Linked DNA regions of Homo sapiens. The protein of the gene in region 3 purifies or fractionates together with the protein of the main gene of each other region. This does not show direct contact. Each region holds a gene or a part of one and is shown on either strand. Other genes may lie near its edges.

Evidence for each region.
Region 1: the proteins of SLC22A4 (region 3) and TTK purify together in Homo sapiens (affinity purification with mass spectrometry; one large-scale study listed by BioGRID and IntAct). This does not show direct contact.
Region 2: the proteins of SLC22A4 (region 3) and ZDHHC21 purify together in Homo sapiens (affinity purification with mass spectrometry; one large-scale study listed by BioGRID and IntAct). This does not show direct contact.
Region 4: the proteins of SLC22A4 (region 3) and NDUFB3 purify together in Homo sapiens (affinity purification with mass spectrometry; one large-scale study listed by BioGRID and IntAct). This does not show direct contact.
Region 5: the proteins of SLC22A4 (region 3) and PDK1 purify together in Homo sapiens (affinity purification with mass spectrometry; one large-scale study listed by BioGRID and IntAct). This does not show direct contact.
Region 6: the proteins of SLC22A4 (region 3) and SLC6A8 purify together in Homo sapiens (affinity purification with mass spectrometry; one large-scale study listed by BioGRID and IntAct). This does not show direct contact.
Region 7: the proteins of SLC22A4 (region 3) and DSG2 purify together in Homo sapiens (affinity purification with mass spectrometry; one large-scale study listed by BioGRID and IntAct). This does not show direct contact.

Annotation. Positions count from the first base shown.
Region 1 is NC_000006.12:80,010,677-80,015,142, forward strand, and holds part of TTK (dual specificity protein kinase TTK), read left to right. Parts: intron 1-137; coding exon 138-281; intron 282-757; coding exon 758-872; intron 873-1,052; coding exon 1,053-1,125; intron 1,126-1,209; coding exon 1,210-1,304; intron 1,305-2,602; coding exon 2,603-2,690; intron 2,691-3,786; coding exon 3,787-3,910; intron 3,911-4,466.
Region 2 is NC_000009.12:14,672,599-14,677,064, reverse strand, and holds part of ZDHHC21 (palmitoyltransferase ZDHHC21), read left to right. Parts: intron 1-2,679; 5' UTR 2,680-2,724; coding exon 2,725-2,878; intron 2,879-4,136; coding exon 4,137-4,235; intron 4,236-4,466. UniProt on the Homo sapiens protein: Palmitoyltransferase that catalyzes the addition of palmitate onto various protein substrates. Palmitoylates sex steroid hormone receptors, including ESR1, PGR and AR, thereby regulating their targeting to the plasma membrane.
Region 3 is NC_000005.10:132,296,806-132,301,271, forward strand, and holds part of SLC22A4 (solute carrier family 22 member 4), read left to right. Parts: intron 1-4,466.
Region 4 is NC_000002.12:201,078,022-201,082,487, forward strand, and holds part of NDUFB3 (NADH dehydrogenase [ubiquinone] 1 beta subcomplex subunit 3), read left to right. Parts: intron 1-859; 5' UTR 860-861; coding exon 862-1,001; intron 1,002-4,466. UniProt on the Homo sapiens protein: Accessory subunit of the mitochondrial membrane respiratory chain NADH dehydrogenase (Complex I), that is believed not to be involved in catalysis. Complex I functions in the transfer of electrons from NADH to the respiratory chain.
Region 5 is NC_000002.12:172,558,537-172,563,002, forward strand, and holds part of PDK1 ([Pyruvate dehydrogenase (acetyl-transferring)] kinase isozyme 1, mitochondrial isoform 2 precursor), read left to right. Parts: exon of another isoform or gene 1-17; intron 18-171; coding exon 172-313; intron 314-3,683; coding exon 3,684-3,755; intron 3,756-4,204; coding exon of another isoform or gene 4,205-4,264; intron 4,265-4,466. UniProt on the Homo sapiens protein: Kinase that plays a key role in regulation of glucose and fatty acid metabolism and homeostasis via phosphorylation of the pyruvate dehydrogenase subunits PDHA1 and PDHA2.
Region 6 is NC_000023.11:153,690,711-153,694,006, forward strand, and holds part of SLC6A8 (sodium- and chloride-dependent creatine transporter 1), read left to right. Parts: intron 1-593; coding exon 594-843; intron 844-1,264; coding exon 1,265-1,397; intron 1,398-2,330; coding exon 2,331-2,465; intron 2,466-2,552; coding exon 2,553-2,656; intron 2,657-2,751; coding exon 2,752-2,876; intron 2,877-3,194; coding exon 3,195-3,296. UniProt on the Homo sapiens protein: Creatine:sodium symporter which mediates the uptake of creatine. Plays an important role in supplying creatine to the brain via the blood-brain barrier.
Region 7 is NC_000018.10:31,545,756-31,549,887, reverse strand, and holds the end of DSG2 (desmoglein-2 preproprotein), read right to left. Parts: coding exon 3,145-4,132; 3' UTR 880-3,144; downstream 1-879.

The DNA.
Region 1 (4,466 bases), on a different chromosome or scaffold from region 3:
ACATGAGCCTTGGAATAAATATTTTTGCTTAAGTCTTTTTGATTTTTTTTTCTAGGTCCTGATGAATACGTATCTGGGTGGTCTGGGTGGTGGGCATTTTACTGCCTAAAAATGACAATTATCTTTTGCTTTGTTAGGTAATGTCAAAAAAAGTAAACAACTTCTTCAAAAAGCTGTAGAACGTGGAGCAGTACCACTAGAAATGCTGGAAATTGCCCTGCGGAATTTAAACCTCCAAAAAAAGCAGCTGCTTTCAGAGGAGGAAAAGAAGAATTTATCAGGTAACTATTAAGGTATACTAATACTTTCTGTGGTAGGTAGTACTTCAAATAAAGATTCGGGATAATAATTTATAGAAAAATATTATTTATGTAGAATGGTTAAAATCTAAGATTAAATTGTAAAGGAGGTAAGACTGAGAAGTAAAAAAGTCTCTACAACCCCATGCAAATTTGTCTTTTTTGCTAACTAAACTTTCGTTAACACATGAAAAACAACTCTAAGCAAGAGAATTTTTTTTTTTTTGCTTTTGGAAATAGAGAATGTGCTTTTACCCTGGGGAAATAGTTATATAATTTAAGAGAATTTGAAGAAGTAGTTAGATAATTATCTTGGTATCATCTTCATGTCTGCATATCTTACTTGGGGACAAGTATTTCCTATGAATTGACTTTTAAAATATTCTTATTTGTAAGATCACTTTTTTGTACTTGTCTTATTTCTTATAAATTTAATCATAGTTTCAAAATTTTTACAGCATCTACGGTATTAACTGCCCAAGAATCATTTTCCGGTTCACTTGGGCATTTACAGAATAGGAACAACAGTTGTGATTCCAGAGGACAGACTACTAAAGCCAGGTTTTTATATGGGTAAGGAAACGGAAACAGTTTTTAAATGTTCATCTTCTATGTAAGTACATCTGTGTTTTTTAATGTAATTACATGTATCTGCATATATGTTTTCATGTGTGTGATAATGTTTAGCAGTAGAGTAGAAATACATATTAATATTGTTCTTTGAAAAATTGGGGGTATTTTCTTTCTGTTTAGAGAGAACATGCCACCACAAGATGCAGAAATAGGTTACCGGAATTCATTGAGACAAACTAACAAAACTAAACAGGTAAGTTACTTTCAATCTGCTTGATTAAGGTGGTGATAGTCTTTATTTCCTAGTTGGTTATTTAATCTTTCAAAATATTTTTAGTCATGCCCATTTGGAAGAGTCCCAGTTAACCTTCTAAATAGCCCAGATTGTGATGTGAAGACAGATGATTCAGTTGTACCTTGTTTTATGAAAAGGTATGTTGAGTTTTAATTTTTAAAATTTGTTGTCCGTATGGGAAGATTAATGGCAGAATGGTCTTAAAGTCTTTTACTGAGTAATAGTAATTATGATTAAATTTTTATTCAGTTTTAGAAGATAATCTCTAAATGTTGTCAGGAACAAAGGAATGAGTGGAGAAAATAACTTTGTTTTGCTTTTTCACTCATTAAAAATATTCATTAAAGGAGCTTTAAAAGGAAAAAATATTAAGTCAACATTAAGCTTAAAAGACTGATATTTGAGGATTTGTCACTTACGGGTAGGCTGTCTGCTAAGAATCTCTTCCTGTTTTGTTTGAGAGTCTCCATAACGGGTAGAAGGAGGTCTGGGAACAAATATTTGCTCCAGATAGTTCAAGGGGAGAATCGCTGTCAGTGGGATAGATGATTATTCTTTTGCTTGAGTCTAGTGCTTCAAGAAGTGGGACAGGTTAGGTACAGATGAATTACTGTTCATCACATCCAGTGTGTTCTCCTTCCCTCAATTTGCTTGTTTATTCCCTGTTAAGAAATGGGAATGTAGCCTGTAGCTCAGCTAAAGGAGAGTTATTTTGGCCTATTCTTAATTCTGACCAACATTTGTAATATTTATATTGGAAAAGGCTCCTTACAGTCCAGAGAATCATTTTGCAAATAAACTTTAGAAATACGATTGTTTTTCATTACTATCTTTTATAATTACATTTCTATTATATTTAGACTTGACTAAATATTGACATTAAAAGAACATTTTGTTTGTCAAGGTTAAGCTTTAAAGTCTTATCACTATGATTTCATCTTGTTCATCTCTATTTCAAATACCTAGCTCAAGAATAAAGGAGATTTTCTTCCGCTCCAAAAAATTAAAAACAAAAACAGAAAAACTGCAGCCATTTTCTTGGTTCCTGTTATCGATAGACAATGCTAGGTACTGTGGAGGTCCACAGAAGTGCTATACCCTGGTTCTTATCCTTTAGCTATTTGTAATTGGAAATGTAGTTTCATCTGTATACTTTGCCTTTCCCACAGTCTAACCCTAACTCCAATTGTTACTGATTAGATAATGAAGAAGTAGGCGATCACCTGTGTCACTTTTGTCATTGCCCAGCACGTAATTTTGTTAGCTAAGTCACTTTTGTATTGGAATTATGTCACTCTAAAAAATGTCTTTTTAAGAGATTTTTTTCAATAAAAAGTATGTATATTATTAAAAATCCAACTTGAGATGAAAAAATACATTGAAAATTTTTTTTTTCAAATTTAATGTTAAAATTATTTTGTTTCACGGGTAAAAGACAAACCTCTAGATCAGAATGCCGAGATTTGGTTGTGCCTGGATCTAAACCAAGTGGAAATGATTCCTGTGAATTAAGAAATTTAAAGGTATTTTAATTCTATATCATTATATAAAGCAAGGGTTCCTGATCTGGGAGGATCAGTATTCATGGAGCTTTTTCTGGGGAAAGGGTTTATAAATAGTTCATGTATCTCCAACAGTGTTCCACATACCCCAAGAGCTGTGGGACTACGAGTGGGAAGTTGGTGCAGAAGTCCTAGACTATGTTTCTCCAAGATTAAGGTGGTAGAGCAAGGATCAACAATCTTTTAAGAGAATCATGAAGTAATATTTATTATGCACGTGTTTAAGCAGATAGTTGGCCTGGGTTTGGGAATACGTGACTGGGGGAACTGTTGCCCCCAAGTTTTGTTTTTTGTTATGTTTAATCATATGATTTTGGTAAGACATCTTAAAAAAAAATGAGAGAGTAAATTGAGTTAGGGCAGAGGTGAGGACATAAATAATCCTGACCTCCTGACATGGCAGAGCAACTTTGTGTGGACTTAAAGGAAATAATTTTAGTTCCTGGTACACTGTGATTTTTAGTGGTTATACTATTATTATAATTGAGTTAAACCCCTGGCATCATGATGTGGGTCTTTTCAATTTTATGTTCTTTGTAATGCCTCCCTCTTTCATGACCTATGCTTTAAGTATTAATTTTTCCTAATCCTGGCTGTCCTAGAGAACAGTGCATAATTGTGTCAAAAAGATTGTTCTCTGGATTTAGAGTAACTACTCTCTTAAGTTATGCAGTTACTAGTTTTGACTTATTTTTGGTGATAAAATAGCCATCACAGTAACAAAATACTTAAATCTTTTTTCTTGTCATGAGGCATACTCTATGTTGAATTCAAACTTTCTAACCCTTTCCATCTTTAAGTGAAATATATTTTAGCAATTGATTAATACATCCACTGAAAGCAAATTGGCCAGATTTATGGTTATGACCCTTCCCATTTCTCTAATTAATAATTCAGGCAGTTAACCTTTGCTGGGGGTTTGTGAGTCTACATATAATTATAATAGAAAATTTTATGAGCAATCCATGTATAGATAAGACTTTAGTATATTGAACAGTAAGACAGATTAGTAGTACTACTATTTATGGGACTTTATTTGATTTTCTTTTTCATGTAGTCTGTTCAAAATAGTCATTTCAAGGAACCTCTGGTGTCAGATGAAAAGAGTTCTGAACTTATTATTACTGATTCAATAACCCTGAAGAATAAAACGGAATCAAGTCTTCTAGCTAAATTAGAAGGTAAGAGTAACAAAATCAGTAGACTTGTATGTTTAGTTAAGAAAACCACTTGATAGCTTAAGAAAGCAGACTAGCCACCTAAGAATTATGATGTGAAACTGTGTCTATGTTCTTTTATCTTGAATTTCCGTTCAGTTATATAGGGTATATGAAAAGTACTGAATCCGCAGCAAAGGAAATTTATTTACCTAAAAGGTGCATAAAAGAAAGAGTGGAGGGAAAATGCAATGGAACTGAGTTTTTTTTCTCAGTTGGCTTGACAAATACTTTCTGGAAGGGATACAAAAGCTGTTTTTATATGACAGCTCTCATCTTTTATCAAGCGTTTGGTTTTCTACTGCATGGGTACTGTGATACATGTTCTAGGGATATATAAGTGGATAAAACAGTGTCCCAAGGAGGTTGCAGTTCAGTGTGGAAGATACACAGAGATATATAAATGCAATGCTGAATAGAATGTGGAGATTGTCATGAGAGCCACATAAATGAAATGCTATGAGAATTCAGAAGAGGGAGAAATTAAGGAACTAATTTGGTTTAGGAGAAATAAGGAAAT
Region 2 (4,466 bases), on a different chromosome or scaffold from region 3:
AATAGAGTTCAAAAATTAATATTTGATAATTTTGCCAGTCGTTTTGCTGGCTCATGTACTTTTCTGCTTCTAATGTTAATAAATTTAAGCTACTCTCATATATACTTAGTGAAATTCATGTTCTGTTTTTAGTCCTGAATAGAACTGAAAAATTAAAGAAAGAAAGGTACATAAAATTAATAATATTGAACACGTTGAGAGAGCACTTGTCATTTCTTTTAGCACTTGATAATTGGCAAGACTAAAAAATTAACATTGTCTTGAATGTTTCTCTTTTTAACTGTGTAGATAGCTTACCATTTGTATTTGAGATTCCTTTATTAAAATGATTCTTAGCAAATTAAATAGCATGCTTTATCCTGTCTGACTTTCTTCATTTTAATGATACCAATCTGTCTTTTGATTTTTAAATTAAAAGATAAATAAATGAAACTTTTATTAGTTTAGTGGCCTGGGCACTATTTCTGTTTTAGAATTCATACACAAGTTAGAACATACCGGATTTAAACTATTAAGTGGTATTACATTTGAGTTCTTTTTTTGTTTTGTTTTTTGTTTTTTTTCTGCTGCCCCAATATTTGCAGGAACTAGGGATGAGAAACTGGGGGTATTCCTTTAAAATCAAGTATTCCTTAATCTCTTTTTCTTTGTTTCAGTAGCTTTATAGCTTTGAAGAACATGGGCAAGGCCTCTAAGGGATGGTGCCCTGAGGCTTTTCAATTGATTATGAATTGTTCTTAGAATGAAGTAGACTGGGATATAGGCTGAAAATCTGGGAATCACCCTTGACACTTTCCCCTGTAACCCCTAATATCTAATCAACCAGAAAAACACACTGGTTCGATTCTAGCAGTTGCTCCTTTCTGCAAACCTAATTTTGGCTTTTGCCTTCTCTTAGCCTAATGGACCTCTGTCTTTAATTTTATCATTCACACCAGAGCTTCAGTAATTTATTCACGGTACACATTTCGTCATGTTAATCCCCTGCTTCAATAGCTTTCCATTGCCGAAGAATTCAGTCTTAGCATTCTAACATGGCATCTTTATGTCCTTCATGATATAGGCCCATATTTCTTAGCACTCACTCTCCACAGAAAGCTTTATGATTTGTGATGGCAGGTTGTAATACCTCCCACAATTTCTACTCTTGCTCCTCCTATTCCTTCTGTTTGCAGTATTCTTGTCACTTTTCATTGCTTAGATAACTTTTACTAACCTTCTAAGACTGAATTCAGGTTTCACTTCTTACAGTAAGTCTTACTTGATTCCTCGTTTAACTGGTCCCATCTTCTGTGCCCCTACTAACATTTTGTTTTCAAATCTGGAACTTACCATATTATATTAAATCTTTTTTCTGATTCTTTTTCCCATTAGACTGTTCCTTTAAGCAAAGACCATGTCTTCTTCATCATTGTATCTGCAGTGTCTAGCAAGTGATAGGTGTGTAGTGGAGGCTCAGTGAATATTTGTTGAACTAAGTGAGTTCAACTCATTGTGGTAACATTGAAGTGTTAGTGAAGCTCATGGGTCAGTGCTTCCTAGACACCAGTCAGCTGTTTTCAGACTCTTGCAGAGCATTTTACAACATTTTATTGTTTTTTGAGTTTTATGAAGAATTATGATTCAGTAGATGTAGAATGGGGTCTGGGAATATGTATTTTTAAAAAGCTCCCCAGGTGTTTTTGGTTTTCTTACAGGCTAGAGAACCGTTGTCCTAGTTTATTATTATACCATTGTATTTTACGTAAAAGGTACCCCCTAGACTTTATACAGCAATTTATTATTTCATCCTTGGAAGTTATATCTACCAAAGTATGGATGTATTTTTAGTCACTTTTTTGGTACCATATTTATATAGAAGTATTTTAAGTCCTTAAGTGTCTCATTGAGAGATCTGTTGGCATATTGTTAACACTCAACTAAAAAAAGCCTCATTTAAACAGGAGTCTTCTTCAGTTGATCATAATGAGATTTGTTGGGCTTCATTCTATGAATTTTAGTATTTTTGGCAATTTGTAATTAGTTTTCACTTTTTATTGTCATTTTTCAAAATACTTAAAAAATGTTTTATTGTAGTTTAAAATTAAACTAGAGTGCACAAATCTGAAGTATACAGCTCAGTGAATGTTTACATATGTAGATACACATAAAGTACCACCCAGGTCAAGATATGGAACGTTTCCCAACCCCTCGTTCTCTCATGTTCCTTTTCAGTTAATATACACCCCTGCAACCACAAGGTAACCACTGTTTTGACTTGTGTGACCCATCAGTCTTCTGATTAAAGCTACTAAAAATTTTTGTACATAATCTTTTGGTGGACACGTGTATTCATTTCTTTTGGGTTTACACAGGAAGTTGCTGGGTTAAGGACAAACTTGTGTTTTAAATTCAGTAGATGATTCCAGTTTATACCTGTGATAGCAGTTCATAGTGAAACATTGAAATTATTTGAAGCTTATGATAAAATTTGAATATCCTGAAACTTCTGTTTGTTTTCCCAAGTATTTATTGTAAAAATATATATACAAAGAAATATCAATAAATATATCAACTACAGAAAGAAAATGTCAAATATGCAAAGAAAACTCAATGTCATTTTATAAAAGTTGCCAGAAATACAGGTTTTAGTCAAATTTTTCTATGTAAGTAATTATTTTCTTTGTTCCTTCTCCTTAGGATCATCCTTCCTTGTGGGTTAGCAGGCAGTTATAAGATTGCAAAATGGGTCTCCGGATTCACTTTGTTGTTGACCCACATGGTTGGTGCTGCATGGGTTTGATTGTCTTTGTTTGGTTATACAATATTGTTTTAATTCCCAAAATTGTCCTCTTTCCTCACTATGAAGAAGGACATATTCCAGGCATATTAATAATAAGTAAGTTTCTTGATCTTTATTTTCTTGTATAATTATTTTTCTCATTGTAAACGTTTTTGGGGTGTAGTGCCACTATGATAACTTTCCTTTTAATATATTTAGTATTTTAGCAGTGCTGTCAATATTCAGTTATTTACTAATTTATGAACTTATGGAAATAATGGCCTTTATAGATTTGCAGTTAGATAAAAGTGATATCTCCATTTTTAACTGCAAAGTGCATGAAGACCATTTTGTTAAAAATAGAAAACTGACACAGTAGTGATAACTTGCATGTCTCTCTGTATTTTTATTATTGCTGTTTTGTACCTAATTACAAATGTAGATGTTTTAAGAATAGAGACAGTATACATTACTGAGAAGTGAGAATTTCATAAGAAAAGTATTGATTACGAAGTTGATTATGATAACACTTGGAACTTCTGGATAGTTATTAGTCAATTGGTGATGGCTTGCTTATGATTAAAATAAATTGAAATTATATATTTTACATGTACATGGCATTTACAGTTTTCATGCACATTACCTCATTTTGACCTCACACGAACCATGGGAAATTTTATATATATATGATAAAACTGACCGGTACTATGCAGTCAGTCCTGGATTGAGCACTCAGACTATTCCCTTTACATGTACAGTATGTTTTTTTTTTTTATCGCCCCAACAGAATTTCTCTATTCTTACTAATTTAAAAATGTAGAATTATGGTGGCCAAATCTGTTTTCCCTTACTATTTTTGTTTTCTGGTTATTAATTTTAAAATTAAAAAGTTTCTAAGTCTTAATTATCAAACTAATCATTTTAAGATCCATCAAAAGGGACAGTTGAACATCACTAATTCAGAGTAATATTGAAGATACCCAGTTAGTTAATGAAAAAGTTTAGTTGTAGAATTTAAAATGGTATTTTGATCCTTTCAAATATAGAACATGCAGTAATTAAACGGGAGCCTATTCATTTATGCCATTATTAATAGGAAGTCCCTGTTATTAAGGGATCTGATTTATAAGAACTTTGAGTTACTATCATGTAAAATAATAATTAAAATTAGTAATGATTAAAATTAGGACTATTTAAGATAGTCCTCCTGACAGTGTTATTTGGTGAGTGAAATCAATTATTTATTTTTTAATCTTTTGAAATTTTTTCTCCTGATGGTGTTTGTTAAAATATACATTTTAAACTTTAAATATGATTGTTGATAAAATGTTTTGAAGGGTAAGTGACTAATTTATTTAATTTATTTATTTTAAAGTATTCTATGGCATTTCCATATTCTGTCTGGTTGCCTTAGTGAGGGCCTCCATAACTGATCCAGGAAGACTCCCTGAGAACCCCAAGATCCCACATGGAGGTATGGTACTCTGGATTTATCAGTTTTGCTGATGCCAGAATTACTGTCTTTATTTACATATTTTATTGCCTTTAATATATATTGGTTATAAATGTCATCTAACACCACTTTGATGTCTTTGCTTGTATGTGTCTTTTCCAAACTTCTCTACTTAAAATTGCAACCCTGCTCCCCCTGCACCCCGGCAGTTTCACCACACCCCATCTCTTGGCTTCTGTATCACATATCATA
Region 3 (4,466 bases):
CTGTCTGCTTTTCCATTGCTCGCTGGTTTTGTTCACTGTAGGGCGTGAGGGGTGAGTAGCTGCTGGCCTCCAAGTCCATAGCTACTCATGTTGTACGCTGTTCACAGGGACCTCTAAGGATGTACATCATCACACATTCACACACATGCACCAGGATTTGCTTTTTTTGGCAGCTTTTCCCTTCCTGGCTTCCTTTTTGAGTGGTGGAAGTAAAATAAAAAGCAACTAGGGGCTGGGCACAGTGGCTCACGCCTGTAATCCCAGTACTTTGAGAGGCTGAGGCGGGCAGATTACTTGAGGTCAGGAGTTTGAGACCAGCCTGGCCAACATGGTGAAACCCCGTCTCTACTAAAAATACAAAAATTAGCTGGGAGTGGTGGTGCACCCCTGTAGTCCCAGCTACTCGGGAGGCTAAGGCAGGAGAATCACTTCAACCTGGGAGGCGGAGGTTGCAGTGAGCTGAGATCACACCACAGCACTCCAGCCTGGGTGACAGAGCCAGACTGTGTCTCAAAACAAACAAACAAACAACAACAACAACAAAAAACTGGGCTCTGGTGGTTGGGAGGAGGAGGGAAGGAAGCAAGTACCAGGGTAAGCAGGATGGATGGATGGCTCTCCCCCAGAGGGGCGGCAGCACACAGAGTTCTGGAGTCAGACTCAGTAGAGGGCCAGTTTTGACTCCACTGCCAACCACCTGGCTGACTCCAGGCAGGTTACATCACTGATGAAAGCCTCAGTTTCCTTGTCTATAAATTGGGGGTACAAGCGATGAAAAGAGGCTCAACATCACTAATCACTAGGGAAATGCAAATGAAAATCATAAGGAGGTACCACTTTGTACCCTTAAAAATAGTTACTACAAAAAGAAAAAAAAAACACCCAGAAATCCACTTTGGGAGGCCGAGGCAGGAGGATTGCTAGGGGGCAGGAGTTCAAGACAGCACTGGGCAACATAGTAAGACCCCATCTCTACAAAAAATAAATAAAAAATTAGCCAGGCATGAGGGCATGTGACTGTAGTTCCAGCTTCTCAGGAGGCTGGGGCAGGAGGATCACTTGAGCCCAAGAGTTTGAGGTTGCAGTGAGCTATGACCATATCTCTGCACTCCAGCCTGGGTGACAGGGCAAGACCCCACCTCTAAAAAAGTGTTGTTGTTGTTTTTAAACACAGAAAATAACAAGTGTTAGTGAGGATGTAGAGAAATTGAAACCCTTGTTCATTCCTAGTGGGAGTGTAAAATGGTGCAGCCACTATGGAAAATAATGTGGTGGTCCCTAAAAAAATTAAAAATAGAATCACCATATGATCCAGCAATACTAATTCTGGATATATGTCTAAAATAATTGAAACAGGGTTTCAAAGAGATATTTGTACACCATGTCTATGGTAGCATTATTCACAATAGTCAAAAGGTGAAAGCAACCCAAGTGTCCTTCCACAGACAAATGGATAAACATAATGTGGTATATGCGTACAATGGACGATTATTCAGCTTTAAAAAGGAAGGACATGCTACAACGTGGATAAACCTTGAGGAGACTACGCTTAGTGAAATAAGCCAGTCACAAGACAAATTATTTTCTGATTTCACTACAGGAGTAGTCACACTCACAGAAGCAGAAAGTAAATGGTGGTTGCCAGGGACTGGAAGAAGGAAGGAGTAGGGAGTCGTTGTTTCATGGGTATAGAGTTTCAGTTTTGTAAGATGAAAGTAGTGTTGGAGATTGATTGCACAACAGTGTGAACGCTTCTGAACTGTACACTTAAAAATGGCTAAGATGGTAAACTGTATATTATGTGTACTTTATCTCAGTTTTCAAAATGGGGATAATAAGAGAAGCCACCTTATCTGAGTTGTTGGGAGGACTCAGTGAGATAATGCCCCATGCCCCATCCGGTGGTGGCCAGCACAGAGTGTGGCACCAGCAAAGAGTGTGGCACCAGCAAATGGGCTTCCTAGGTGGTGGTGAGGAGTGGTAAAGGCAGAAGCTCAGCACCTTCTTTGCCTTCTCCACTGGCTGGGGACAGTGGGCATGGTGGGAGCTGTTCTAAAGTCCAGGTTGTGGCCTGTGTAATAGGTGATGGGACTTGCTGGAGGCTGAGCCCCTCTCCCCACAGTGGCAGTTCCAAGCCTCAGAGAATAGAACACAAGTCCAAACCCATACTGACTTGGCCAGTGCCAGTGTACAGGGCCAAGCCCAGGGCCCCTGAGAAGGTTCTCTGCATCCCAGTTGGCACAACACAGGTAGTGGGACTGTCCTCAGATTGTGTCTTTGCCTTATACTGCCGTGCCAGGATCTCCCAATGGGCATATCTTTGGGGACAGACAAGTCTGCCTGAACTGCCCCCCAACACCTCTTCACAGGAGGACAGGGTTAGCCAGGAACCAAGGATGGCATGCTGTGCTGTAGAAATGCCTTTCATAGTATGCCAGGAGGTAGCAATAAGGTGTCTGAGTTGGGGTTTGCGTGAGTGCATTCGTCTGTGTGTGTACATGTGTATAAGGTAGTTTCCTTCTTCAGGGGTTGATTGTGAGGTCCAAGTTTTTCAACCTGTGCAGTTACTAAGAGTCAAATTATTTTTCGTTTTATTTTATTTTATTTTATTTTATTTTATTTTATTTTTTTGAGATGGAGTTTCTTTCTTCGTTCTTGTTGCCCAGGGTGGAGGAGTGCAATGGTGCCATCTCGGCTCACTGCAACCTCTGCCTCCTTGGTTCAAGCGATTCTCCTGCCTCAGCCTCCCGAGTAGCTGGGATTACAGGGGCCTGCTACCATGCCCGGCTAGTTTTTTGTTTGTTTGTTTGTTTGTTTTTTGTATTTTTAGTAGAGACAGGGTTTCACCATGTTGGCCAGGCTGGTCTCGAACTCCTGACCTAAGGTGATCCACCTGCCTCGGCCTCCCAAAGTGTTGGGATTACAGGCGTGAGCCACCGCGCCTGGCGATTATTTTTTAACTTTATTTTGAAATAACTTTTGATTTAGAGAGAAGTTTGAAAATAGTACAGAGATTTCACATATACCCTTCATCTAGCTTTCTCTGATGTTAACAATTTAAATACGCGTTATGCATTTATCCAAACCAGGAAATTAACATTGGTTACAATAGTAATAACTGAACTACAGACTTTGTTTGGATTTCACCAGTTTTTCTACTACTGCCCTTTTTCTATCGTAGGATCCCATCCAAAATCCCATGTTGTATTTAGTTGTCATGTCTCAGTCTCCAATCTGTGATTGTTCCTTAGTCTTTCCTTATCTTTCATGATCTTGACATTTTTATGAGTATTTTGATGAATGCTCCTCAGTTTGGGTTGGCATGATTTTTCTCACAATTAGATTGCGTTATGCACTTTTTGGTAATGATACCTTAGAAGTGATGCATTCTCTGGGCATCATACCAGTGGGTACATGATGCTGATGTGTCTTATTACTGGTGATGTTAACCTTGATCATTTGTCAAGTTGGTGTCTGTGGAATTTCTCTGCTGTAAAGGTACTATTTTTTCCTCTGTCACTAATAAATATCTTAAGGGAGGTTCTTCGAGATTATACAAAATCCTGTGTCTCCTCAAATTTTTATTCACTGATTTTAGCATTCATCACTAGGTCTTGACTGAAACAATTATTACTGCAGTTTGCCTAGTGATGATTTTGCATTTTCTGATTCCTTCAACATTTATTAATTGGAATTCTTCTGAGAAGAAGAGCTTCCCCTCCACATCTATTTATTAATGTATGCAATTGTTAACTTATATCAGTACAGGTTCATACATACTTATTTTATTTCATCAGTTATAAACTAATGCTATCCATCTTTATTTTGTTGCTCCAGTTATTCTAGCTCAAACCAAGTTATTTTTCACTTTAAGGATAGAGAATGTAGATATCCAGGGTAAGGGCCTTTATCTGTCTCTGCAGTCAGGGCTAGAGGAGTCTGTGTTTACCCCTGCGGGAGGAGTGCCAGTCACAGCTCGTTGCTAAGTTTTCCATCAGGCAGCAGTTGAGCAGGAACGCAAGCAGGGACTGGTGGGACCTGGGTTGGGACTGAAGCTTCTGTTGGGGAAGGAAGTGCCCCAAGCAACCCAGAGTGTCTGATGCTGGGGTCCTCATCCCTGAGACCTACTGCAGGGGTCAGATCTCAGTCTCCATGGGCATGGCCCTTCATATATAGCCCTCAGGGCCAAGACCTCAGAGAGAAGAGGCCCTGCGTGTGAGGAAACCCGGCAGCCTCCTGCCCTGAGGCTAAAGGAGCAGGAAGGGCAACAAATGCTCTGCTCTGGAGAGGGCCTAAGTTCATCTGCAGGGCCACAGGGCAAGCAGCAGAGGCAATCCTGGCTCGTGGCCAGGGGCTAAGCATGGGCTGGCCTTTGCCTCAAGCATGTCCTCTTCTCCCATGGAGCATCATTAGGGTCTTGACCTTCCCATCAGTCCATGGGCTGGGAAAACTGAGGCAGTCACCTC
Region 4 (4,466 bases), on a different chromosome or scaffold from region 3:
GCCGGGTGCGGTGGCTCACACTTGTAATCCCAGCACTTTGGGAGGCTGAGGTGGGTGGATCACGAGGTCAGGAGATTCAGACCATCCTGGCTAACATGGTGAAACCCCGTCTCCACTAAAATTACAAAAAATTAGCCGGGCGTGGTGGCGGGCACCTGTAGTCCCAGCTACTCGCCAGGCTGAGGCAGGAGAATGGCGTGAACCCGGGAGGCGGAGCTTGCAGTGAGCCAAGATTGCACCACTGCACTCCAGCCTGAGCGACAGAGCGAGACGCCGTCTCAAAAAATAAGAAGAAGAAGAAGTTAGGAGCAGGGTTCTAAAACCAAACTGCAAGGTTCTAATCCCAGCTGTACCATTACTATTTTTGTTACCTTTGGAAAGTTACTTAATTGCTTGGAGTCTCATTGTCCTCATCTGTAAAATGGGGATACTCATTATTTAAGTTCAAAGAGTTGTTTTAGAGGTAATGGAGTTAATACACATAAAGCATTTTAGCATATGTTTACTATTTATAAAGAGTTGTTTTAGAGGTATTGGAGTTAATACACATAAAGCATTTTAGCAAATGTTTACTATTATTATAATGAAGAAAAGAACCAGATAGTAAATGGTTATCTCTGAGTGATGAGATTGCCAATTATTTTTCTTTTTTATATTTTGTGTATGTGTATTTCCTAACTGTGAACATGGTTGTAGAATAAGACACTTTTATAAAATCCTTTAACTGGAATTTTCAAGTATTTATATTGGCTTTTTTTTTTAATATTAAATGCTTTACCTTAAAACATAAACAATAAATTTGGGTATTTGATATCTACAATTTGCATATTTCTCACTTGTGTTAATCTTTTCCTTACAGACATGGCCCATGAACATGGACATGAGCATGGACATCATAAAATGGAACTTCCAGATTATAGACAATGGAAGATAGAAGGGACACCATTAGAAACTATCCAGAAGAAGCTGGCTGCAAAAGGGCTAAGGGATCCATGGGGCCGGTAAGATGAATTAAGTAATTTAGATAGAATGTATCCTAGAGAATCAAGTGTCTATGTTGCTTTTCAATGTATTCTCCTTAGAGAATCATGAAAAATGGCTTTTTACTTTAAAGGGTTTTTTTTGGTTTTTGTTTTGTTTTTGAGACGGTGTCTTGCTGTGTTGCCAGGCTGGAGTGCAGTGGCGCGATCTCAGCTCACTGCAGCCTCCGCCACCCGGGTTCAAGTGATTCTCTTGCCTCAGCCTCCCAAGCAGCTGGGATTACAGGCACGCGCCACCAAGCCCAGCTACTTTTTGTGTTTTTAGTAGAGACGGGGTTTCACCATGTTGGCCAAGATAGTCTCGATCTCCTGACCTCGTGATCCACCTGCCTCAGCCTCCCGAAGTGCTGGGATTACAGGCATGAGCCACCACGCCTGGCTACTTTAAAAGTTTTTGGTTTGTTTTGAGACAGGGTCTCACTCTGTCACCCAGACTGGAGTGCAGTGGTGCGCTCACAGCAACCTCCATCTCCCAGGCTTAAGCAATCCTCCCACTCCAGCCTCCCTAGTAGCTGAGACTACAGGCATGGGCCACCATGCCCAGCTAATTTTTATATTGTTAGTAGAGACAGGGTTTTGCCATGTTGCCCGGGCTAGTCTCAAATTCCTGAGGTGAAGTGATCTGCCCACCTTGGCCTCCCAAAGTGTTAAAATTACAGGCATGAGCCGCTACACCTAGCCACATTAAAATTTTAAAATCGACTTTATTGAGCTATCGTTTATATATAGTAAAATTCACCTGTTTTGAGTGTAAGTCCTTTATCAGATAAAAGTTTTGTGGTGCTTGCTTCAGAAACATATATACTAAAATTGTAATACAGAGAAGTTAGTATGGCCCTGTGCAAGGATTTAAAACAATTTTTTTTAAGGTTTGCAAATGTTTTTTCTCACAGTGTGGCTTATCTTTTTATTTTCTGAATAATGTCTTTCAGAGAGTTTTAAATTTTGATGAATTCACAATTTAGCAATTTTTAAATTTTACAATGTATCCTTTTTGCACCCTAAGATTATCTTCTATGCTTTCTTTTAGAAGCTTTTATAGTTCTTCTTACATTCTGTGATCTGTTTTGAGTTCATTTTTGTGTCATATGAAGTAAGGATGAAGATTAGTATTTTTACATATGTGCATCCAGTTGCTCCAGCACCATTTATTAAAAAATTATTGTACCTCCGTTGAATTACCTTAATAATGTTGTCAAAAATCCATTGAGTGATTTTTGACACTCAATGTGGGTGGTGGCTCGCACCTATAATTCCAGCACATTGGGAAGCCAAGGCAGGCGGATCGCTTGAGCCCAGGATTTTGAAACCAGCCTAGGCAGTACAGGGAGACTTTGTCTCTACAAAAAAATTTTAAGAATTGCCAGATGTGATGACACACACATGTAGTCCCAGCTACTCAGGAGGCTGAGGTGGGCAGATCACTTGAGCCCAGGATGTCCAGGCGGCAGTGAGCCAAGATCTGGCCACTGCACTCCAACCTGGGCAACAGAGAGAGACCTTGCCTCAAGAAAAAAAAATCAATTGACTGTATCTATGGGATCTATGTCTGGACTGTACTCTGTTACCCTCATTAATATGTCCACCCTTATGCCAATACCACAGTGTCTTTAAATTACATAGCATAAGATCTCCAACTTTTTTTTTTTTTTTTTTTTTTTGAGACAGAGTCTCACTCTGTCACCCAGGCTAGGGTGTGGTGGCTCAATCTGGCTCGCTGCCAGCTCCACCTCCCGGGTTCACGCCATTCTCCTGCCTCAGCCTCCTAAATAGCTGGGACTACAGGTGCCTGCCACCATGCCCTGCTAATTTTTTGTATTTTTAGTAGAGACGGGGTTTCACCGTGTTAGCCAGGATGGTCTGGATCTCCCGACCTCATGATCCACCCGCCTCAGCCTCCCAAAGTGCTGGGATTACAGGCATGAGCCACCGTGCCCAGCCAAGATCTCCAACCTGTAAAAAATTGTTTTAGCTATTCTAGGTCCTTTGCTTTTACATATAAACTTTGGAATGAACCTGACAATTTCTATTAAAATCCCTGCTTGGATTTTAATTGGGATCACATTGAATCTGTTTCACATAGATTCACAATGGGAATCTATTTCACATCCACATTGAATCAGATTCCCATCAATTTAGGGGCCAGGCATGGTGGCTCACACCTGTAATTCCAGCACTTTGGGAGGCCGAGGCGGGTGGATCACTTAAGGTCAGGTGTTCGAGACCAGCCTGGGCAACATGGGAAACCCTGTCTCTACTAAAAATACAAAAATTAGCCAGGTGTGGTAGTGGGTACCTGTAATCCCAGCTACTCAGGAGGCTGAGACAGGAGAATCACTTGAACCCGCGAGGCTGAGGTTGCAATGAACCAAGATCGTGCCACTGCACTCCAGCCTGGGCAACAGAGTAAGCTTCCATCTTAAAGAAAACAAAAAATTTAGGGATAAGTGATGTCTTAACAATATTAAGTCTTCTAGTCAATGGGCAATTTAGGTCTTGTTCATTTTATCAGCAGTATTTTATTGCTTTACGTACAGGTCTTGCACATATTTTATTAAATTTATACTGAATTAATTATTTATTTTATTTTATTTTATTTTTCTGGGAGACAGAGTCTCACTGTGTCACCCAGGCTGGAGTGCAGTGGCACAATCTTGGCTTACTGCAACCTCTGCCTCCTGGGTTTAAGCAATTCTCCTGCCTCAGCCTCCTGAGTAGCTGGGATTACAGACGTGCACCACCACGCCCAGCTAATTTTTTTTTTTTTTTTTTGAAATGGAGTCTCGCTCTGTCACACAGGCTGGAGTGCAGTGGCACGATCTCCGCTCACTGCAAGCTCCGCCTCCTGGGTTCACACCATTCTCCTGCCTCAGCCTCCCGAGTAGCTGGGACTACAGGCGCCCACCACTATGCCCGGCTAATTTTTTGTATTTTTTAGTAGAGATGGGGTTTCACTGTGTTAGCCAGAATGGTCTCGATATCCTGACCTCATGATCCACCCACCTCAGCTTCCCAAAGCGCTGGGATTACAGGCATGAGCCACCGCGCCAGGCCTAATTTTTGTATTTTTTTGGTAGAGATGGGGTTTCACCATGTTGGCCAGGCTGGTCTTGAACTCATGACCTCAAGTGATCCGCTCGCCTCAGCCCCCCAAAGTGCTAGGATTACAGGTTTGAGCCATCAGGCCTGGCGTTGTTTGTTTGTTTGTTTGTTTGTTTGTTTTGGGAGATGGAGTCTCCGTCGCCCAGGATGGAGTGCAATGATGCCGTTTTGGCTCATTGCAGCCTCTACCTCGTGGGCTGAAATCATCCTCCCACCTCAGCCTCCCGAGTAGCTGGGACTACAGGTGCATGCCGCCATGCCCAGCTAATTTTTGTATTTTTTGTTGAGACGAGGTTTTCCTGTGTTGCCCAGGCTGGTCTCAAA
Region 5 (4,466 bases), on a different chromosome or scaffold from region 3:
TCCCTCGCCTCCCACAGGCAGGTGTATCTTTGCCTCCTATTCCCTGCCCCATCGTGGTGATTCTATCCCTCTGGCCTTGCCGGATAACTTCCTCTCTATTTCTCTCAGCCTCTTGCCTTCTGTTTCCTTATGGCTTTTACTTACTGCTTTACCCATCATGTTTGGTTTCAGGATCAGTGAATGCTTGTGAAAAGACCTCATTTATGTTTCTGCGGCAAGAGTTGCCTGTCAGACTGGCAAATATAATGAAAGAAATAAGTCTCCTTCCAGATAATCTTCTCAGGACACCATCCGTTCAATTGGTACAAAGCTGGTAAGATTCTCATCTTGTGTTTGCAATTTGATGGAGTTGTGGACTTTATTCAAGGTTACAGCAAATGCTTTTTTTTACTCTTTGGTGGAATCTTTTTTGTTTTGTTTTGTTTTGTTTGAGACGGAGTCTTGCTCTGTCGCCCAGGCTGGAGTGCAGTGGCGCGATCTTGCCTCACTGCAAGCTCCGCCTCCCGGGTTCAGGCGATTCTCCTGCCTCAGCCTCCCGAGTAACTGGGATTACAGGCACGTGCCACCACGCCCAGCTAATTTTTGTATTTTTAGTAGAGACAGGGTTTCACCATGTTGGCCAGGATGATCTCGGTCTCCTGAACTCGTGATCCACCCACCTTGGCCTCCCAAAGTGCTGGGATTACAGACGTGAGCCACCGTGCCCGACCAGAGTCTTAAGGTAGTAGCAGTATTCTTTTTTTGGCTGGGGGCAGGTGGGGGCAATGTATTTGGGCTTGTGCCCTGAATCGTGGACTCCACAACTTCTTGATTTTGAGAAAGCCAGTCAAAACTGCACTGAAATACAGATGCTAAATTTAGGATTTATGTTAGTATATCTTCAAGGATATTATAAGAAAAAATGTCTGCAATTTGTTGATGACTGGGTATTTATGTATATTGCCTTTAATCCCTTCAACAACCTTGCACAGTGGGTATGATTCTCTCCATTTTATTCATTGTTATTATTTTTATTTACTTTTTGTTTTTGAAATGGAATCTTGCTCTGTTGCCCAGGCTGGAGTGCAATGGCATGATCTTGGCTCACTGCAACCTCTGCCTCCTGGGTTCAAGTGATTCTCCTGCCTCAGCCTCCAGAGTAGCTGGGATTACAGGCACCTGCCACCATGCCTGGCTAATTTTTGTATTTTTAGTAGAAATAGAGGTTTCACCATGTTGGCCAGGCTGGTCTCAAGCTCCTGACCTCAGGTGATCCTCCCACCTTGGCTTCCCAAAGTGCTGGGATTACAGGCATGAGCCACCACTCCTGGCCTACTTATTTTTTTGAGACAGGTTCTTACTCTGTCACCCAGGTTGGAGTGCAGTGGTGATCACAGCTCAGCTCACTGCAACCTCCACCTCCCTGGCTCAGGTGATCCTCCCACCTCGGCCTCCTGAGTAGCTGGGACCACAAGTGCATGCCACACCCAGCTAATTTTTGTATTTTTTAGCAGAGATGGGGTTTTTCCATGTTGCCTACGCTGGCCTCAAACTCCGGAGGTCAAGGTATTTGCCCACCTGGGCCTCTCAAAGTGCAGGGATTATGGGCATGAGCCATTGTGTCTAGCCTGTTTATTATTTTTTAAATTAATTTATTTTCTTTTTAGAGACAGGGTCTCCATCACCCAGGCTAGAGTGCAGTAGTGTGATCATGGCTCACTGCAGTCTTGACCTCCTGGGGTCAAGAGATTCTCCTGCTAAGGCAGCTGCCTCCCGAGCAGCTGGGACCACAGCCATGCGCCACCATACCTGACCAATTCTTTTATTTTTTTGTAGAGATGGGGGTCTCACTTTTTTGCCCAGGCAGGTTGTGAACTCCTGGGCTCAAGCAGTCCTCTCACCTTGGCTTCACAAAGTGTTGGTATTACAGACATGAGCCACCGCACCTGGCAGGTTAACTCTGTACAGATGAGGATGCTGAGGCACATAAAGGTTAAATCTTTTGCGTAAGACAGTACCATTGATAGTGGAGTTGGGATTCAAACCCCCATTTGTCCATCTCTGCTATACCGTGCTATAGTCAGAATGATGAAATATATGAAAGGATATATGTATTTTTAATAAACTGTGTTTATTGAAGGGTATCTTTTTATAAATTACAAAAGTTAAAATGTTTATTTTTCTGTTTTAAAACAATTAGAAGTTTTTGGAATTGTGTAGAAAAAGTGTGATCTCTTCCCAAAGATAAGTAGAGATGTTAAGGGTATACACTCATGGAGCCACCTATATACAGCCTTCATTAATGTTACTGATTTAAAAGTGTTGTTCTTTTAAGCACTGTATGCTTCAAACAAATGAGTTGCCCAGAGTTAAGTCTTAAATGGAAAAGGTTTAGCTGCAGGGCATTTCCCAGTTATGATTCATGGAGATTCAAGTTTTCTTTTTGTAAGCATTATAGCGTATGGGAGAAGTTGATCTAATCGCAATTTAAAAAAGCAAAATATGACTGCTATATATATGATAATCAGATGCTATCTAGTCCAAGTATGGAATAGTTATAAGTGTGGATTAAATGGGAAGCATTTGTTTAGTAATTATGATGGGATATAATGGAGAAAATATAATATTCCATGGAAGATTTTTCCTGTTTTTAAAAAATTCTTCATTAGAAGTAGAATATGCTGCTTTTTGAAGCTTATCAGTCATGAGGTCTGATCGGTGCCTGTTGTAGGTACTCAAATATCTCTTGGATGGAGAGCGTAGTTGTTCTTGCCAATTAAGAGGAAATTAAGGGTTAAAGCAAAGCAGCAGCTGCTATCAGAATCCCTTAACTTTGGAATGCAGTAAGACATATTGCTTGTCAGAAACAGCTTTCCAAACCAACAGATGGAATTACAGGTTTTTAAAGCACTTCCATTGCTCCTAGATGCCTGCTAAGTTAGGACAGTTGCAGATAAAGTGCTTACAGCCAAGTGGAGCAGATCCCTTACACTGTCGAAGAAAGTAATTCAGTGGTAGCAAGTTATTTTTAGCTCTGGCCCCGCAGTGCCATTGTACTTGCCTGCAAGACCATCAGAAAATCATTTGGCCTTCTCTATTTTGCTCATTCCTTAACAGATGCTTTGATACTTCGAATTGTTAGATAAATTTAAAATGTACATTTTTATGACTTTTGTGTTTTTTGTTCAGTTTAAAAGAACCATGTAGATTATAGGCTTTCAATAAATACTTGTTAGTTGGACATAAATATGTAAAATTAAGGTTTTAAAGCACAGATATTTAAGATACAGTCTTAGAGCAAGAGAGGCTGTCCTCCTTTTACTGATAATAAGACAAATTAAGTCATTTGCCCAAGATCACATAGTTACTGGTGACAGATCTCAGCATAATCAGTATATATACTGTAATGTACAGTGGTAAATTAAAAAAAAATTAAAAGCCATTTTAGAATGTAGAACTCGGAAAATCTTAAAATTCTTAAATTTGACCTTTGCTTTTAGGAGAAAATGTGCACCTTCTACCATTCATTCCCAGCACTTTGCTTGAATGTGCATGGGTGTAAAAATTATACTTCAACCATAATTTATAGCAGTATTCTAAATTAAAAATTATAAAATGCTAAAAATAGCTTTTGAGCTAATTTTCATGATATTGAACTTTCAGAATATAAAAGAACAAACTTATCCTATTGATCTGCATTTTAGGTATATCCAGAGTCTTCAGGAGCTTCTTGATTTTAAGGACAAAAGTGCTGAGGATGCTAAAGCTATTTATGAGTAAGTTCACTATTTTGACCCTATTCTTAAACCTATTATTAGGTCACTTGGGGGAAATTGGTTAACTTTTAGGTTTCTACTACTTTAGAACATGTGATATATGTGACTGTAGCAGCCCATACAGGCAGGACAAATAACAATCAGCAAATTTGACTAGGCATAAGAAATGCTTCGTGTTCCTCTTTAACAAAAGACAAAGTTCAGGTGTGATGATCAGTGGAAATGTAGGTGTGGCCTCAGTGCCAGTTGGACTGTTCACCTGGAGGGTGCATGCTCCTTCTAATGGACAACCACCTTCAGCCCCAGCTGATCTTTGCCATATGAAAATACTGCCCATATCATCTGATTGTTTTCTGATTTTAAAGGAAAGCTACAAGTCTAGATTTGTAATGTAAAATCTCTCACTTTTGAAAGATTGGTAACTAATTAAAACATTTTTTAAAACACAGAAGGCCTAGAAGAACATGGTTGCAGGTCTCTAGTTTATGCTGTATGGCCTGCAAGATGATGTAAGTAATATGACAATGTTAATAACCCATATACCAGAATTGGTAAACCAAAGTATTTGCCTTATGCAGCTACCTGCTTATTGCAGTGAAGGGTACTGAGAGTGTAATGACCATCTCTTGTCCTCAGTTAGTTACACATGTTTTTTGGACTGTCTTTAAAGTGAACAGTAACACTTCATTTTTTTAAACATGATTTTAATCT
Region 6 (3,296 bases), on a different chromosome or scaffold from region 3:
CAAGGACAGGCCAGGCATAGCCGGGCTGGGGACGGGACCTGCCCAGCAGCACCCTTGGCTCTCTAGGTAGGTCCTACTGTTACTATCCCCAAGGACGCTGGGGCACAGACAGGTGGAGCGACGTACTGAGGTTGCCCACTGCAGGGGCGACTGTCTCCAACACTACCTCAGGCGACTAGAAACCCCCCCCCCCCACCACCACCATCAACACCAGCTGCTGAGGACTGGAGGCTACTGGGTGGCCAGGCAGAGGCTTGGACCTCCTGGAACCGCCATGGTGGCAGTGGGACCCACAGAAGGGGCCAGGTGTATGAGGCTGGAGACTCCACAGCACTTGGTCAGATGGGGACAGGAGGAGAGGGGCTCGCTCTGCCTTGGGTCTAGGGGGCGGCTGGAGGAGAGGAGACAGGCTGGGGAGTCAGCGCAGTGTTGGGGCTCACACAAGGGGGAGCCCAGGGGAGTCAGGAGCACCACAAACAAGGCTCCAGGAGGACAGATGGTGGGAGCACGGCCAGCCTGGGTGGGGACATAAAGGGGTGGCAGGGGGAGGTGGCCAGGGAAGAATCTACATGGCAAGGACTTCCCGGCCCCAGGCCTGGGCTACGCCTCCATGGTGATCGTCTTCTACTGCAACACCTACTACATCATGGTGCTGGCCTGGGGCTTCTATTACCTGGTCAAGTCCTTTACCACCACGCTGCCCTGGGCCACATGTGGCCACACCTGGAACACTCCCGACTGCGTGGAGATCTTCCGCCATGAAGACTGTGCCAATGCCAGCCTGGCCAACCTCACCTGTGACCAGCTTGCTGACCGCCGGTCCCCTGTCATCGAGTTCTGGGAGTGAGTCCGGCACCTCTGGGCCAAGCCCATCCCATCCCCCAGGTCTCCCTCATGTTGCCCGGCTCCAGGGGAGTGGCCCTGAGGGGGCACCAGGGTGTTGCCTGGCAGTCCATCCTGGACCCTGCCTGCCCTTGCCTGTCCTCGGAGAGTCCTGGGGCCAGCCTCGCTCCTGGGTTCGGCAGCCGATCACTGTCCTGGTCACTCCCCCCTGATGGGGGAGCTGGGGCTGCATGTGAGGTGGGATGGGAGTGGCCTCCCAATGGCCAGGGGATCGTGGGCTCCAGGCCCAGCCCAATTGGACAAGAGGGACCCGCTGAACCCTGGGCTGTGGGAGAGAAGGGAGCCACAACTCCTGGGGGTGGACCCTGTGGCTCCATCCTCTGCTGGCACAGGCCTCATGGGACCTCCCTCCCTCCCCTAGGAACAAAGTCTTGAGGCTGTCTGGGGGACTGGAGGTGCCAGGGGCCCTCAACTGGGAGGTGACCCTTTGTCTGCTGGCCTGCTGGGTGCTGGTCTACTTCTGTGTCTGGAAGGGGGTCAAATCCACGGGAAAGGTACCACTAGAGGCATGCAGCGGGGAGGGTGGCTCAGCCCTGGGAGCCGGATGTCTGTGCCAGGCACACCTGTGGCAACGGGAGGTGACCAGACAGAGTCTAGCCCTAAGGAAGGGGGAGGTACTGAAAGCCAAGCAATGCTCCCCACCCTGCAAATCCAGGGCCCAGCAGCCTTTGCTCCTGGGGATAGAGGCCCTGGCAGGCACTGTCCCTTCCCTGTGCCCATCACCCCCACTGGTGCCCTCCTGCCAGTCTCTGACTCTTGTGACAGTCTGGTGGACCTGGTCTGGCCATCTGTTACCTATCTTGCCTTGGGGACCCAGAGCAGAGTCTGGCCACATCCCTTGGGGGCTCCTGGTCAGGCTGGGGAGTCACCTGAACAAAGAAGACAGTGTCTAGAGCTGTGGGACATGGCCAGCTCCCTGGGGGACAAGGTCCCCAGAGCAGCATGTGGGAAGAGGGGGCAGACAGTGTGGCAGCTGCATCTCGCCTGCCTCTGCCTGGCCCAGTTCCACTCTCCACCTGCTCAACCCCCACCTCTCTCCAGAAGAGGAGGGGGACCCGACCCGGATCCAATATCCCGCTCCCTGCCTGGGCCTCCCACACCTGCACTGCCCACACACTCATACAGCTCTCACTCCCCACGTGCTCCACGCCTCCTGTCCCCACTGAGGAGAGCTCCCAGAGGCTCGCCTGCTCCCCACCGACACGCGTCCCTGCAGACAAACGAGGCGCCCAGGGAGCTTCCCCACTGCACTTGGCCAGGGCTGCCGGGGCGCAGCCTTGCCCCTAGCTTCCTCTGGCGGGAGCCATGGCTCGGAGGACAATGGGGACCTCTGAACATACCTGCCCGCAAGGGGGACCGGAGGCGCTGGGAGTGGGGGTGTGAGGGAGGTGGTGCCACAGCCTCCGCTGAGCAGCCTGGCCCCCCAGATCGTGTACTTCACTGCTACATTCCCCTACGTGGTCCTGGTCGTGCTGCTGGTGCGTGGAGTGCTGCTGCCTGGCGCCCTGGATGGCATCATTTACTATCTCAAGCCTGACTGGTCAAAGCTGGGGTCCCCTCAGGTGAGGTGGAGGTGGAGAGGCTGCAGCAGGGCGCTGCGGGGGAGCCCTGCAGGCCCCTCATGCCTGCGCTCTCCGGCCCTTCTCTAGGTGTGGATAGATGCGGGGACCCAGATTTTCTTTTCTTACGCCATTGGCCTGGGGGCCCTCACAGCCCTGGGCAGCTACAACCGCTTCAACAACAACTGCTACAAGTAAGCACCGCCGCCCTGCCACCCGTGCCCTGTCCTGCCCTGCCCCGCCCTGCCCAGCAGCCTAACCCATCCACTCTGGCCCCTCCACCCCTCAGGGACGCCATCATCCTGGCTCTCATCAACAGTGGGACCAGCTTCTTTGCTGGCTTCGTGGTCTTCTCCATCCTGGGCTTCATGGCTGCAGAGCAGGGCGTGCACATCTCCAAGGTGGCAGAGTCAGGTAGGGCCCTACCCCCAGCCCCGCCTCCAGAGCAGCGAGTGCTACCCAGATGCATGATGTACAGGAACATGCAATAGAAATGCTGAAAAGTGACGAGGATTCAAACGGAACTTGTCAGATTGTGGGCCTGTGGGGGCAGGTCCTGGGATTTGTCAATGTTGACAGAGAAAGGACCTCCCAGCCCCTGCCGCACGACCCAGGGTTGACAGCGCCTCTGAGGCAGGCGTGGGCATGGGCGCGAGTGTTGCAGGCAGGGCTCAGGGTGCGCACAGGGCAGGACATCGGCTACAAGGTCTAGAGCCTGCACCTTTCCCACAGGGCCGGGCCTGGCCTTCATCGCCTACCCGCGGGCTGTCACGCTGATGCCAGTGGCCCCACTCTGGGCTGCCCTGTTCTTCTTCATGCTGTTGCTGCTTGGTC
Region 7 (4,132 bases), on a different chromosome or scaffold from region 3:
ACTTTTCCTGGTCACCTTCCCATAACTTGTTTCCCCTGCCCAGAAGCCCCTAATCCCCTTTCCTATGTTTTAGCCCAAGTTGGTATATTATTAAATTAAACTGGGCCTGAGGCTGCCTCCATACCTTGAGTCCCCACATGACGAACTGCAGCCTAGCTTGGTACATAAATGAACTGAAAGCCTAATTTAGGAGTATATTTTTGTAATACATAGCTGAGCGTCAATCAATCACAGCAGCTGAGTTTCAGCCAGTCACTGGCTGCCAACTGATCAGCCCACCTCCAAATAAGGCAAAGGCTCAGCTGTAACCAATCAAGCAGCTTCCCTACCTCACTTCCATTTTCTGTCTATGAATACGGCCTGCTCATTATTGTAGAATAGAGTTCTCCGAACCTTTTCTAGTTCCAGGGCAGCCCAATTTTGTGAACCTTTCTTTGCTTAAGTAAACTGTTAGATTTAATTTGTTTAAAGCTCTTCTTTTAACATTTTACACCCAAGTTCTAACCACCCCTTTGAGCTGCTCATTCCAGTTACTCCAAAGCATGCATGAGATACACATGTTAACAGACTAATGTTTGTTTTTCTCTTGTTAATCTGTGTTTTGTTACAGAGCCCCAGCTGGGGACCTAGAAGAAAATTTGTTTTTCTTCTCTTATAGCAGCAACTCTGATCTTTTCCCTTCTAAACTATAACAAGCAATTAAAACAGCCTCTCAAACATTGGTAGAATGATTTCATCTCTTTGGGTTAGATATACTAGCCTTCTTCTGCCAGACCCAACAGATTTCTCCAGTGTTACTCTGGGCAGAGAGCAACCTTCACTTCCTTAGGAACAAGGTTGCCAGAGTTGGACAATGAAAATGCCAAGTACCCCGATAAATTTGAATTTTAGATAACCGACAACTTTTTTTATTGCAAGCAGATCTAATTAAATAACAAAGTCCAAGAAACACCTGCCTTTAAGGCACTCTCCCTAACAAACTGAGTTATATTCCTTGTAAAATATAATAGAGAAATAAAAATCTATGGGGAAAGGGTCACTCTAAAGATACTTTTTATTTAAATATTTTATGATGATACATATACAAATATAATCTTCCAAAAAACAAATGTAAAACTAATACAAATCACTTTTTCAGGAACAAAGAAAATCATTTAGAAAATGTGATTATGCTAAAAGAGGCAGGTTAGGTTTCCAAGGCTGCTCAAGGTGGAAGCTTAAGACCAACTTTTGTTTGAGTACACAAGTGATATTTACATTTTCATATACTAGTGATATACCTGTTGCATACTTGGCAAAATAAAACTGATAGTAAGTCTATAATAATAAAAGAAACAACAATTACTAAGTAAACAATTCTAGATGATGGAAGAGTAACCTCCATTTAAGCTACAGACTTAGATGTCTAAAAATATGTGTCCTGATCTGTACAGTTAGTGGGAGCACACTATATAAATCCTTTGCATGACACCATTCAACAATATTTTTTAAAATCTACAAAATTTTAAAGTTTCACTTCCCTAGCAAAATATCTTCAGTCAAGAAATTAGTCTTTGAAAATTATGAAAATTGTTGTGGGAAATATTTATACAAATTATTACTGATAATGCACATATATTTTGAAACATTGTTTCTAGAAGCAATAAAATATAACCTATTTAGGAGATAACCCAAATGATTTGTAAAAAAATTAACTTGTAGAAAAGGGAAGGATGTTGTGTAAAATCAAGTCAATTATTTGAGGTTTTTATAATATTGAGTACTTATGTACTAAGTCACACCCAGCCAGTCAATAACTGAGAAATCAAAATAAAATAATAATTTCAAAGAATTACATAAATACAGGGCCTTTTGAGATTTTTGGCAATTGTAAACAAAAACGAATGGTTTTTACAATTCAGTGTAATTCTACGAATATTTATTTGGCACCCATGTTAGGCACTGAGGCTACACAGCAGTGAAATAGGCCTAGTTGTTCTCAACTAGAGAACATAGTTGGTTAATGTAGCTGCACTGAATTGTAGCTGTTTAGAAGATAATATACCCTGAGGCTTTTTAAAGTATACTATTACTATAAGAAGTAAAATTATTTTATACTTATAAATTTTGTTTTGGATTATTCAACTGAATTTGGAGTGTTCAGAATTTTCATGGCGGTTGAGACAAGGAAGAGGTATAATGCTATTTTTTTTTCCTTTTCTTTTTTTTTTTGAGACGGAATCTCACTCTGTTGCCCAGACTGGAGTGCAATGGTGCGATCTCGGCTCACTGCAACCTCCGCCTCCCGGGTTCAAGTGATTCTCCTGCCTCAGCCTCCCAAGTAGCTGGGATTACAGGCGCCCACCATCACGCCCAGCTAATTTTTGTATTTTTAGTAGAGACGGGGTTTCACCAGGTTGGCCTGGCTGATCTCAAACTCCTGACCACAGTTGATCCACCCGCCTCGGCCTCCCAAAGTGCTGGGATTACAGGCGTTAGCCACCACCCCTGGCCAGTATAATGCTATTTTTAAGACTATACAGTATGTACGTGCACACACACACACTGTCATGTGCACAGAAACATACAATGTGTATTCTTATCATCAATGGTCCAATTTAATGAATCACACAGATTGAAAGGGTTCAAGTCTTAAAGAAGTTATGAGCACCATAGCTGGTGCTCAGACTGTGCATGTATCTTTGGATCAATGAGTTGTTGAAAGTCTGCTGGGTGCAGTAAAGTACAGAATACAGAACATCAATGTTTAATGTTAATACGGTAGGCAAAGAGACCCAGTCAGTTTCCTGGGTTGCTTTACTGGACGGCTGATGAACTAGGTACTCTGTTCACTTGGTAAATTCTCAGAAGCCAGATTGACTCTCTATGTATCTTGTTTTATCAGGATTGTTTGCATAGCTTGCTAAAAGGCACCTAAGCAGCAGCATCATCTCTATGTCTTCAGTAAATTGTGGAACATTTCTAAAATACTCCTGGAAGCAGAGACAGTGTGGTCCTTTGCATATCAGTGACTGAGAAAAATTTTAAGATCAATGTGTATGTGTCTCTGTGTGTCTGTAAGGCTCATGAAAAATCAGGTACATTGGAAACATGAAATTAGTCACTGCTAATTAAACTCTGGGTCAGTTTGTGGCTGACTGCTGTTTAGGAGTAAGAATGCTGTACAGTGCTATGCTTGGTAACTCTGGTGGAAGATGTGGTTATGGTAGAATTAGAATGACCAGATTCCTCTAAACCAAAATCTGGCAGAGGGCCAGGGACTCCAGCTCCAGACACCGTGGTGTTCCTAGCCGTCATAGAATTTTCAGTGGGAATCTGGTAACTGGATTGCAGAGTGGAAGCAGGTGCTAGAACTCTTTCTGTCACTGTCACATTCTGTCCTACTGCTATATTAGGCATGGCCAGAGTAGGCTGCACACCTGAGCTGGGGGCAAGGAAGCTCTCTCTTTCCCTCACCATGACGTAAGGTACATCTTGAAGATGCTGAGTGCCTTCCAGAGGATTCGATCCACCCCCATGAGGCTGTATTACTCTTTCAGTGACCACAACTGTACCTTCATTAGCATAAGGCTGATCTACCAAGGTAGAAGCTGGAGCATACACCCTCTCTGTCACAATAAGGCTCTGTGGCTGGCTAGGACCCAGGATCACAGTGGTTGGTGGCATAGTGGACCCTGTGACATAGGAAGTTTCTGTTGCTATCACATTTCTAGAAGCCATTGGGTCAGGAAGAGGTGTAGCTACCTTTTGCGCCTGCCTAGAAGACACAGATCTTTCAGTGACTATTTCCTGAGTTACTTTCTCTGCATTGGCTTCTTGCAAAGATTTTGGAACTGGGAAGCTACTGCCAGAGGAGTAGGTATTCTCTGAATTAACCATAGTTTGCTCACAGAGTGAATGTGAAGCTGTGTTCATACTTGTTTCTGTGGCAGGTTTTTGTCTCTGCTCAATTTCCTTATTTATATCTATTTTTTGACCCAGGCAAACTTCAGCTAGTGTCTTGAATTTAAGTCCCAAATCATCTAAGAAGCGGTCATCTAGCTCTCCTTCAATAAAACTGCAACAACCAATAGAAGCATTCAGCGATTCAGTTTCTTCCTGAGAATAAACCAGAAGGCAATCTTTGGCTGTG